Homo sapiens: one gene and its partners. The protein of the gene in region 1 purifies or fractionates together with the protein of each later gene. This does not show direct contact. Each region holds a gene or a part of one and is shown in the gene's direction. Other genes may lie near its edges. The genes, in order: FGF11, AHCYL1 and UBE2O.

Region 1 (3,078 bases):
TCCCAAAGTGTTGGGATTATAGGCATGAGCCACTGTGCTTGGCCCAGAGCCTAGTTCTTAGCCCTCAGCCCTCTTCCTTGTCCTCCCTTTGCTCCCAGGTCCTACATGGACTCAGAAGTTGTCCTCCCCCTCCCCCAAAAAGGATTTGTGCTTTCCATGAGCTCCTTTCTGCCCAGTGATGTGTCTTTTTATCTCTCTGTCTTTGTGCGCCTTTCTGGGTCTTTGTCTCCTTAGCCGCATTTCACAGCTGAGTGTCGCTTTAAGGAGTGTGTCTTTGAGAATTACTACGTCCTGTACGCCTCTGCTCTCTACCGCCAGCGTCGTTCTGGCCGGGCCTGGTACCTCGGCCTGGACAAGGAGGGCCAGGTCATGAAGGGAAACCGAGTTAAGAAGACCAAGGCAGCTGCCCACTTTCTGCCCAAGCTCCTGGAGGGTGGGTATAGACTCAAGAAAATGTGGGCCACAGGAGAGGGTATTGACCTTGATATGGACATTTAGGGGCAGACAGCTCAGGCTACAAGTGATAAGAGGACCCTTTGTGACAGATCAAGCCAGGAAGGCTTTGCCCTTTGGGGGTTTGGGTGCGGTCCTCCTGTGGGGTTGGGGTTCTTGGAGGGTGAATGTACGGGAAGGGAGCCCTTTTGGAGCACTGGTTCTGCCTGGGTCCCTCTGTGCCTAACTCTCCTTCCCTGCTCCTCTCTTTCTCCCCTTCACAGTGGCCATGTACCAGGAGCCTTCTCTCCACAGTGTCCCCGAGGCCTCCCCTTCCAGTCCCCCTGCCCCCTGAAATGTAGTCCCTGGACTGGAGGTTCCCTGCACTCCCAGTGAGCCAGCCACCACCACAACCTGTCTCCCAGTCCTGCTCTCACCCCTGCTGCCACACACATGCCCTGAGCAGCCAGGTCCCACTAGGTGCTCTACCCTGAGGGAGCCTAGGGGCTGACTGTGACTTCCGAGGCTGCTGAGACCCTTAGATCTTTGGGCCTAGGAGGGAGTCAGAGAGGGGGATGTCTGAAGATGGTCCTGGCTGATCACTTCTTTCTTTCCACACTCACACAACGCCATGCCTTTTCCTGAGATGGCGCTGGGAGTTCCCACATGGACAGCCAGGGCATAAACACTTCCCACCCCGGCTCAGCCAGTTCCTGGAGTCCTGTGCCCCTTTTCATTGCCACTGAGCCATTTCTAGATTCACTGGAGCTCAGGATTCATGTGTCCTTCTTTCCCTACTCTACCTTCTACCTTGGTCTGGACACATTCTGGAACACTGGACACCCTCGCCAGGGCCACTTCTGCACTAGGGCTCTGTGCTGGAACCCAGGCATGCTGCCAGCCTTTTCTCTGGATCTGTCAGGCCTCTGTCATTGACTCAGATGGACCCCTGGTTTCCAAGTAGAAAGAGGCTAGATTTGGGCCTTGTCTAGCTGTTGGCTTTGGCCTGAACCGGAACCAGTCTCAGATGACCACGGGTTTAACCTTCTTATCCCAGAGACACCCAATTCTAGAGCTTTATGGAGCCGTACTTCCCCCTGAATCCTAGCTCTAGGACATAGATCATGACTCTCAGCCCTTTTACCCAGGATGGAGCTGGGGCCTGTATAGCCATATTATTGTTCTAAGTAAGTTCTAGCCCCACCCTCCCGCCTTCTTGAGTGATACCTATTACGGATGAGTTCTGGAAAAGACCCAGCTATGATTCATAAAAACACTTCTGGATGAATCAAGAACCATTTCTTGTTTTTCCTAGATAATTCTCTAAAAATATGATTCTTCCATATAGAATGCTAAGCTTATTTTTACATGCAGTTTCTAGCTCCTTCAACCCAGCTGAGGTCGTGCCAGGGAGACAGAGTCTGGAGAAGGGCAGAGGAATTTTGGAAGGATCCCTGGCTCATAGTAGGGAAGCTGGGATGGGGGAGGGGTCAAAATTATGGCATGACTGAACCTGCATCTGTGTTGGGTGGACATGAATACTTAGCTACCTCAGCAGGAATTCCTTCCAGGTCCCCTTTAAAGCTGAGGTCCTTAGAGTAATATGTCCTTAATAAAAAGGACAAATGGATACAGCCTTGACCCTCCCAGTGAGGAGACCCCAATTCAGCAATAAGTCTCACCCTTCTCCCCTACAGGTCAGGCCAAGAAGGGTGAAGGCCTCTTGCACTCCAGACCTCATACGCCCCAACAGCTTCTAATTGGATAGAACTTGCTTTACCTTACAGCTCACAACCTCAGCTGGGTTTTAGGTACCCAAAAAGGGCCTGTCTAGATTTTTTCAGAAAAACGTGGAGTGCTAGGGGCAGCCTGGAAAAGATGGGGAACCTGCTAGTGAACTAGGAGGGAGACTTCCATAGCCTCAGACTTGGATAGGGTAGGCTGAGGGGGCCCTAAGGGAGGGACTAAGGCTCCAAGGCAGGTCACTTTTCCTTAGGCTGTTCTACTTCTGGCTTGTTGCAAGAGGAGTAGATGCCCCCTCACCCACACAAACCCCACTCAGTCTCCACCCAACTCCTGGCACTGCTCCCAGGGGATCGGGTCTCCACTCCAGCTTTCTCAATTAAAGACGATTTATACAACTGAAGTGCTGTCTGTCATCTGTCGGTGGCGGGCTTGGCAGTTGCTCGAGGCAGGATCAAGTCCCGGGGGCGGGGCGGGTGGGCTGGCGGCTGTCCTCCAGCAACAGGTGCACATTCCCGGGCTCCTCGTCACTTCCCCTGTGCTGGCGGTCCCAGCGGCTCTCTGAGCGAAGTCACTGAGCGAGCCGCCAGGCTATGACCCCAGGGGCTCTGCTGATGCTGCTGGGGGCGCTGGGGGCGCCGCTCGCCCCAGGTAAGTGTAGGCCCCGAAGGGGCAGTGACGGGGCCAGCGGTCGTGGCCAGGCACCAGGGCTGCACTTATTCTCTCCTCCCCCAGGCGTCCGCGGCTCGGAGGCGGAGGGTCGACTCCGGGAGAAACTTTTCTCTGGCTATGATAGCTCCGTGCGGCCAGCGCGGGAGGTGGGAGACCGTGTCAGGGTCAGCGTTGGTCTCATCCTGGCGCAACTCATCAGCCTGGTGAGGGCGCGCGGGGGGTGGAGGTCAG
Region 2 (3,652 bases), on another chromosome or scaffold:
GAACACAAAGTAAAAAGTTTAATGAACTATTGGTAAAAGGTAGTATTTGGAAATCTGGGGTAGAGATTGGAAAAGTACTTTTGAGAACCACAGGTACAAGACTCTCCAAGCATGCTCCTGCTTCTTACCATAAAAGCCCCAACGCCTCCGCTGATGTGCCTGTGTACTTAACCTGTGGGGCTTAATGGGCTTAACATGTTCTTCTCTACCAGCCCAAGCCAGTTCACTTGTTTTAAAGTGGACAGCCTGTACTCAGTTGTGTGATGGAAATGGGGCATATTAAACAGGAGGGGTCTGGGACTGCTCTCTGTTCCATGCTGTTCATCTTGGACCTGCCTCAGGCTTACTTCTTCACAATTTGAGGAACTGCTCAGCAAGAGCACACCCTATTGTTGACATGTTTTTCTTTTCTCTCCGGAACCTGCGAGTGTACGATGGCATTAGTGGAATCCCTCTGAGCCTGTGTGCCAAGGAAAATGCTAATGTGCTGATCCACAATGATGTGTGGCTCAGTGTGAACTACGTAGTAAATTTGTGAGTGACAGAGTAAAGGGGCAAGAGGCTGGAGGAGATGAGTATAACCATCTTTCATTCACTTAGACTTCCTGAATGAAGCCGTTCATACTGAGTTTTGAGCAATGAGAGGATTTTGGAAGTTCTGTTTTTAATAAATGGCTCCAACTCTTCTAGTACTTACTAATTGTATTAAGGTGAACCTTTGGGACATAGGTTTCCATATGCTTAATGGGAAATACTTTGTCCCTTTTCCCCCAAGACTGGCTTGACCTCACGTCAAGACCTCACGTCAAAGCTTTTGGGCCATGACCTGTTTCCTTTGTGGTTCCAGAAATCTGGGGGCGGGGGGAAGAAAAGAGAGAGACCTACCATAAAAGTTAATAGGACAGGCTGGGCCCAGTGGCTCACGCCTGTAATCCCAGCACTTTGGGAGGCCGAGGCAGGAGGATCACAAGGTCAGGAGATCGAGACCATCATGGCCAACATGGTGAAACCCCATCTCTACTAAAAACACAAAAAAAATTAGCTGGGTGTGGCAGCACACACCTGTAGTCCCAGCTACCCGGGAGGCTGAGGCAGGAGAATCGCTTGAACCCAGGAGGTGGAGGTTGCAGTGAGCCAAGATCGCACCACTGTACTCCAGCCTGGCAACAGAGCAAGACTCCGTCTCAAAAAAAAAAAAAAAAAAAAAAGTTAAAGGACAGAGATTCTGATCTGCCCTCTTTGACCAGACCCACCCCTTCTCCTTTCTCAAAGACTTTAAGGAGAAGACTTCAGGTTCTCATGACTGTTAGCTTTATTTTGGGGATGTAGAAAATAGAGATTCACTTTGAATTTTCAAAATGCACATCCCCATCTTTGTTTCTAATTTTAGAAGAGAGGTCAGTAAGTAGACAGATTTGTGTAGAAGATAGAGAATTGGAATATGCTTCTCTTTTGCCTATTTGAGGGAATGCTCTTGAGAATCACTGGATTAGAGACTGTAGAACAATGGTTCTTACTCTTTGAGTCAGAGGTCCTTTTAAGAGTTTAATGAAAATCCTGGTTCTTTCCTCAGGAAAATTCAGGAGCACAAAAATATGCGTATTCTGTTAGAGGATTTATGGGACTTCTGAAACTCATGGATCCTGGGTTTTAAAGTCCTGATGTGGAAGGCCAGGCCTCCAAGCCACAGCATCTCTTTTCATTACAAGTCCACAAACTGCTAAGAGATTTAAGTTTCCAGCCTGCAGTTTGTCCTTATGGCTTGGAACAAAGCTGAGGTTGTTGGCATTGTCAGCTCCCTCTTTGGGATGCTCCTCAGCTTCCCAAAAGACTCATTATAAGTGCCTTGAGAGTTCAGCTCAGGAACTTAACACACATTCGAACCGGCATTTCGGCCACTTTGGGGGAATTTTTGGTATTATCTCAACTCTACTGCTCTTCATATGAAATGCAGATGCCCCTGAAGCTCCAGAGCTGATTCCGTAGGAGTGTTTGAAATAGTAGCTCACATAGTAGATTATCAAAACTAAACAAAATAATTTGCTTCTGTATGTCTCTCAAAAATAGGTTGGATTTCAATGTAGTACTTCTCAAACTATTATATTTTAAGGACTGACCTGATATTTGAATTTTACTCATCATTTGACTTTTCTAGATGGAATATGTTGAGGGCAAAGACCGTATCTCACACATATTTATATAGTACCTGGCACATAATACTGTCAATAAATGCTTATTGAATAAAATAATGTGAGATAATCATTCCTTGGAGAAAGTAAGTTGGACTTATGTGGTGGCTTTGACTCACTTTCCCTTTCAGTTGGCTGGGGTGATTTTTCTAACTTAGAGCCCTCTCACATAGGTATAAGGAAGTACCAAGAACTGCAGGTGAGAAATTGATGAGAATTTCCAACTTAATAGATCCCTTTATAAAGCCAGAAATAGGAGGTCAGGGAGAAGACATCTGAATATATGCCTCCAGCTTCTTAGCCCAGTGGCAGTGGGCATAGGGATATCCTTAGACAATAATGGGGAAGGTAACTTGAATTTCTCACCATTGAAACAACTTTTAAACCCTTAGCATTAGGGAGACTCTGTCCAAAGTTGAAACTGGTATCCTGGTTTATACATGCTCTTGATTTAAAGAACAGGGAGGCTTTCACATAGGGTATTTGAGGTTTGGGGATTAGCGATGAGTTGAATAGTTTGATTTTGGAAAGTACATTGGAACTCTGAAAGTAATAAACAACAGCTCCGTCCGGCAGTGATGAGCAAACTTCTGGTTCTTACTCTGCAACCCTGGCTGCCCCTTCTGAGTCAAAGGCTGAGTTTGATGCTCAAAAGCTATACATGCCCTTCTCTCTTTGAAACACACCTTCTTTAGAATTACAGTCTTCTGGGAACTGGGCCAATGCTTATCCTAGCCAGAAGCTCAGGCTCTAGTTGGCACTACATTTTGTGTGTTCTGTTTCACTTCAAGTGTATAACTTAGGCAAGATTCAGGGGAAAAGGAGACCTTCAGAATTTTGCTATTTTGTGTTGTTTGTTTGTTTGTTTGAGATGGATTTTTGCTCTTGTCGCCCAGGCTGGAGTGTGATGGCACGATCTCGGCTCACTGCAATCTCCACCTCCCGGGTTCAAACAGTTCTCCTGCCTCAGCCTCCCAAGTAGCTGGGATTACAGGCATGTGCCACCACACCTGGCTAAATTTTTTTTGGTGTTTTTTTTGTTTTTGTTTTTGTTTTTAGTAGAGATGGGATTTCATCATGTTGGTTAGGGTGGTCTCGAACTCCTGACCTCAGGTGATCCACCCGCCATGGCCTCCCAAAGTGTTGGGATTACAGGCATGAGCCACTGCACCCGGCAAATTTTGCTATTTTGGAAGTTGAAATAGGTGCTTCCTAGAGATAGCAGATGTATCCAGTTGCTTTGGTAACTAATTCAGTTTCTTATGGGTGGCCAGGTGGTATCCCACTTATTATTCAATACTTGAGGGTTCAGTGCCCAGCTTCTGAGCACCAGCTTTCTTAGCAAGCAAGACATGAAGATTCCCAGTGTTCATTTATGAGAAGTAGCCCAGCTGGCTTGTCATGCTGGACTAGATGAATTGTGAATGTTAATTATATTGATAATACAGTGGCCTTGGTAACAG
Region 3 (3,652 bases), about 69 Mb from region 1:
CAAGGTGATAGTATGCCGTAAAGGAAAGACCATTAGACCAAGATTGACTAATCTAGTTATGAGATTTGAGAACCCAATTATTGACAAAATAATGTAGTGGCAGATTTTTTTTTTTTTTTGAGTTACTGGTTTGTTTATTATTTTTGGGATGGGGTCTCACTGTTACTCAGGTGTCCTTGAATTCCTGGTCTCACACAATCCTCCTGCCTCAGCCTCCCAGGTAGCTGGGACTACAGTAGTGATGGTTTTGAGAAACTTATTTTTTATTTATTTATGTTTTTGAGACGGAGTTTTGCTCTTGTTGCCCAGGCTGGAGTGCAATGGCGCCAGCTCGGCTCACCGCAACCTCTGCCTCCCGGGTTCAAGCGATTCTCCTACCTCAGCCTCCCGAGTAGCTGGGATTACAGGCATACGCCATCACGCCCGGCTAATTTTTTGTATTTTTAGTGGAGACGGGGTTTCTCCGTGGTGGCCAGGCTGTTCTTGAACTCCTGACCTCAGGTGATCCGCCCGCCTCGGCCTCCCAAAGTGCTGGGATTACAGGCAGGAGCCACCGCACCCGCCCGAAACTTATTTTTTTTAATAAGCTGCTACCTATTGAAAATTTTTGTGTGTGAGTTTCTTTTTTAAACAGAGTCTCTCTCTGTCACCCAGGCTGGAGTGCAGTGGCACGATCTCAGCTCATTACAACCTCAACTTCCCGGGTTCAAGTGATTCTTGTGCCTCAGCCTCCCGCATAGCTGGGATTATGGGCATGCGCCATCACACCCAGCTAATTTTTGTATTTTTAGTAGAGACGGCAGTTTGCCATTTTGGCCAGGCTGGTCTTGAACTTCTGGCCTCAAGTGATTCACCGGCCTTGGCCTCCCCAAGTGCTGGAATTACAGGCATAAGCCACAGTGCCTTGCCCCATTGAAATTTTTTAGTAGTATCTATTTAATGTGGAGTGTTTCATAGGGTGTGGCGTATTTTTGTAGTTTTCTCTGTAAATTGGAGGGCAATGAGTAAAGGCTTAATCTTAGTCTCAAGTTTTTAGTGAACAAATTTACAAAGAGAGATGAAGAGACTGGGCAGCAAGTCATGTCCTTTCCCTGCTGCCTTCATGAAAATAGCAACAGAAACAAAGTAAGTTCTTCCATGAAGCTATGGAATTTGTCGTGTTCCTGAGGCTTCCAGCCACCAAAATTAAGCCTCTTAAGGACTCAAAAGGAGCTAGTGGCCAGTGTCTCTTATATGCTTCTTCCTTTCTCCAGTCTTCTGACCTGTTCAGCGAGGTAGCCACTTGAAACTGTCCATCTGGCCATGGATCTCCTTAGAGGAGGCTTGCCCCTTCCCCATCACCAGTCATCCTTTGAATAAAATTTTGTAACAAAGCCAAATGCCAGCAGCCACTTAAACCTTCATGAGCACTGGCTAGACGTGGTGGGTCCTTCTGGTCTCCACCTGTCATGGTTGGGCAGAACAGCCCCCTGCGAGGTAAGGGAGCAGGACTGCTGTCTGTCAGTTCAAGTTCAGCCTTCGTTTCGGAGGCAAAGCGTTTATGCTTTAGCTTTCTTGTGCTTTTTCATCTCTTTTGCATTGTCTTTTGTTTTAAGTTGCCATGACATTCAGGGTTTCACCAGGTTTGAGATATAGTGCCTCTAAATTAGGGCTGTCTGTGATCACCCTGCTTTTATGAAGCTGTGTGTGTGAAACATCCCTGATGACAGGTCCCTCGGGAATTGGCTTTGCAGTTTATTTTTGGCTCCTACGCTGGCCAGCATTTCCATGGGGAAAGCTATTTAGGTGTAGCATCATGGCACGTGAAGTTTGTCTCACTTGTCTGGGTGCTGGGCCCATTAAAAGCAATTGTTCTTAGTGATGTAATGTGAAGAAGTTATATAAGGTTAACCAAGATGCAGGACTAAGTGAATCTAAATTGCGTTTTATTCAGATAGGATCACAGCACTTGTAGACTCTTAACAGCTGTTCTGTGATTTTATTCTTTGTCCCTTGATTTTTCCCCTTCTAGCCCTCGGGCCTCAGTGCCCTGATGGTGCTTCTGTCTGGCTGCTGCCTGACTCAAGGGTACTTTCCCCAGATGAAGGGTGTGTGTTTTGTACTGTGATTGGAAGCCAAAACCCTTGGGTGCTCTTCCTGGCTGTCACCTACTCTGAATGACCTTGACCAAGTCACTGCCTCATTTTCTCCCTCTGCAATGAAATAAGAGGTCTATCTTCCTAACCCCGATATGATCCTGCTCGGATGGAATAACCAGAAGTGTAGCTGGGTCAAGCCTAGGATGGCCACTTGGTTATTAGCAGACAGCATTCTGATGTCTGTCAGAGAGAGCCAGCCCTGTGCCTTCAGAAGATCACTTCCATGAGAAAGAGGGTGATGCTGCACCAAAGAGGCACCTTGGGAAGCAAAAGGTGCACGAGGCGGGTTGTGGGGAAGGTGGTTGTTTCAGGGGCATAGGAATTCCTAATGGCTCGTGTTGCTAGTGACCAGATGGATTATAGGTTTGACTTTATTAAACCTCTTCTAGAAATACTCATGAACTTCCTACCTCTGTTACTTTGTGAGAAATTCAGTAATGCACATTTAAAGTAACCCCGGCCGTCCTCCAGGAGGGGGATGGAATGAATCTGTATGTATGTATGTATGTTTCCAGAGTCTGAAAGGTCTCTTGAAATTCTCAAGACTGGTAATGAGATTATAAATTACAAAGATGATAGAGTATTGCTTTATATTTTAAGGTAATAAGAGCAGTCATGATCCAGGATACTGTTACTGTGTGCCAGGCACTCTTAGTGCTTTAGATGTTTTACTTCACGCTCACAACAACCCTGTGGTGCTATTATTAGCCCCATATTCCAGAGAAGGAAGCTGAGGAACAGAGAGGTTAAGTAAATTGCCCAGTGTCACACTTCTAAGTGGAGGAATCTGAATACAAATTGAACTAAATGTACTTTGTTCTCACCTGAGAATACTTAAGTTCAGGATTCAGAGATCATTACTATACGTGACCGAGTGCCCTGATCCAACATGAATCACAAGCCTTGTGGTTGGCATTAATCATCCCTTCTTTAAACAGTTGAAAGTCTTAGTGTAATAGGAGGTACTACAAGTGAGGAAGGAGAGAGGCACAGGATGTTGGGATAGGTGGAAGTTGTGCCAGTGGGCAGGCAGGAGGGAGGGAGATGATGGGTAGGGAGCAGGACGGGAGGAACACTGCATTCGCACTGGCGGTGTGCTTCTGCAGATTCCACTCTTTTCATTCCCTGACCCCTCAGTCATTCTCAAAATAACTGTCAAAAACACATTGCATTTCTAGAGAACCTTTGACTGCCCCTCAATGTTGAATGAAGCAACCTCTGTAGTCTGATTCATTCCAACACTGAACTGCAGTTCAGTTTTATTCCCCAACTCCACCTCCTAGAGCAAAACAAGTGTGCAGACACTCCACGTAACTGGCATTTCTGTGTTGCCTCAGAAGTGGTCAGCTCCATTAGGAGCTCCAACTTGACCTCCTGTCCGCTCTGCTGCTGTCATCCTTCGGCTGGGAATGCTGAGTCATGAGACAGGTTCAGGAAGGATTCCTTGGAGAGGCTGAGTTCCACCTCAATTTCAGTTTCTGTTCCCTTCAGTTTCCGTGTGTTTTTGCTTTAGG

The links.
Region 2: the proteins of FGF11 (region 1) and AHCYL1 purify together in Homo sapiens (affinity purification with mass spectrometry; 3 studies listed by BioGRID and IntAct, with this or other methods). This does not show direct contact.
Region 3: the proteins of FGF11 (region 1) and UBE2O purify together in Homo sapiens (affinity purification with mass spectrometry; 3 studies listed by BioGRID and IntAct, with this or other methods). This does not show direct contact.

What each region holds. Positions count from the first base shown.
Region 1 is NC_000017.11:7,442,360-7,445,437, forward strand, and holds the end of FGF11 (fibroblast growth factor 11), read left to right. Parts: intron 1-234; coding exon 235-433; intron 434-716; coding exon 717-787; 3' UTR 788-2,578; downstream 2,579-3,078. Other genes in the region: CHRNB1 (acetylcholine receptor subunit beta precursor), read left to right, coding at 2,769-2,826, 2,911-3,050.
Region 2 is NC_000001.11:109,991,223-109,994,874, forward strand, and holds part of AHCYL1 (S-adenosylhomocysteine hydrolase-like protein 1), read left to right. Parts: intron 1-3,652. UniProt on the Homo sapiens protein: Multifaceted cellular regulator which coordinates several essential cellular functions including regulation of epithelial HCO3(-) and fluid secretion, mRNA processing and DNA replication.
Region 3 is NC_000017.11:76,446,550-76,450,201, reverse strand, and holds part of UBE2O ((E3-independent) E2 ubiquitin-conjugating enzyme), read left to right. Parts: intron 1-3,652. UniProt on the Homo sapiens protein: E2/E3 hybrid ubiquitin-protein ligase that displays both E2 and E3 ligase activities and mediates monoubiquitination of target proteins. Negatively regulates TRAF6-mediated NF-kappa-B activation independently of its E2 activity.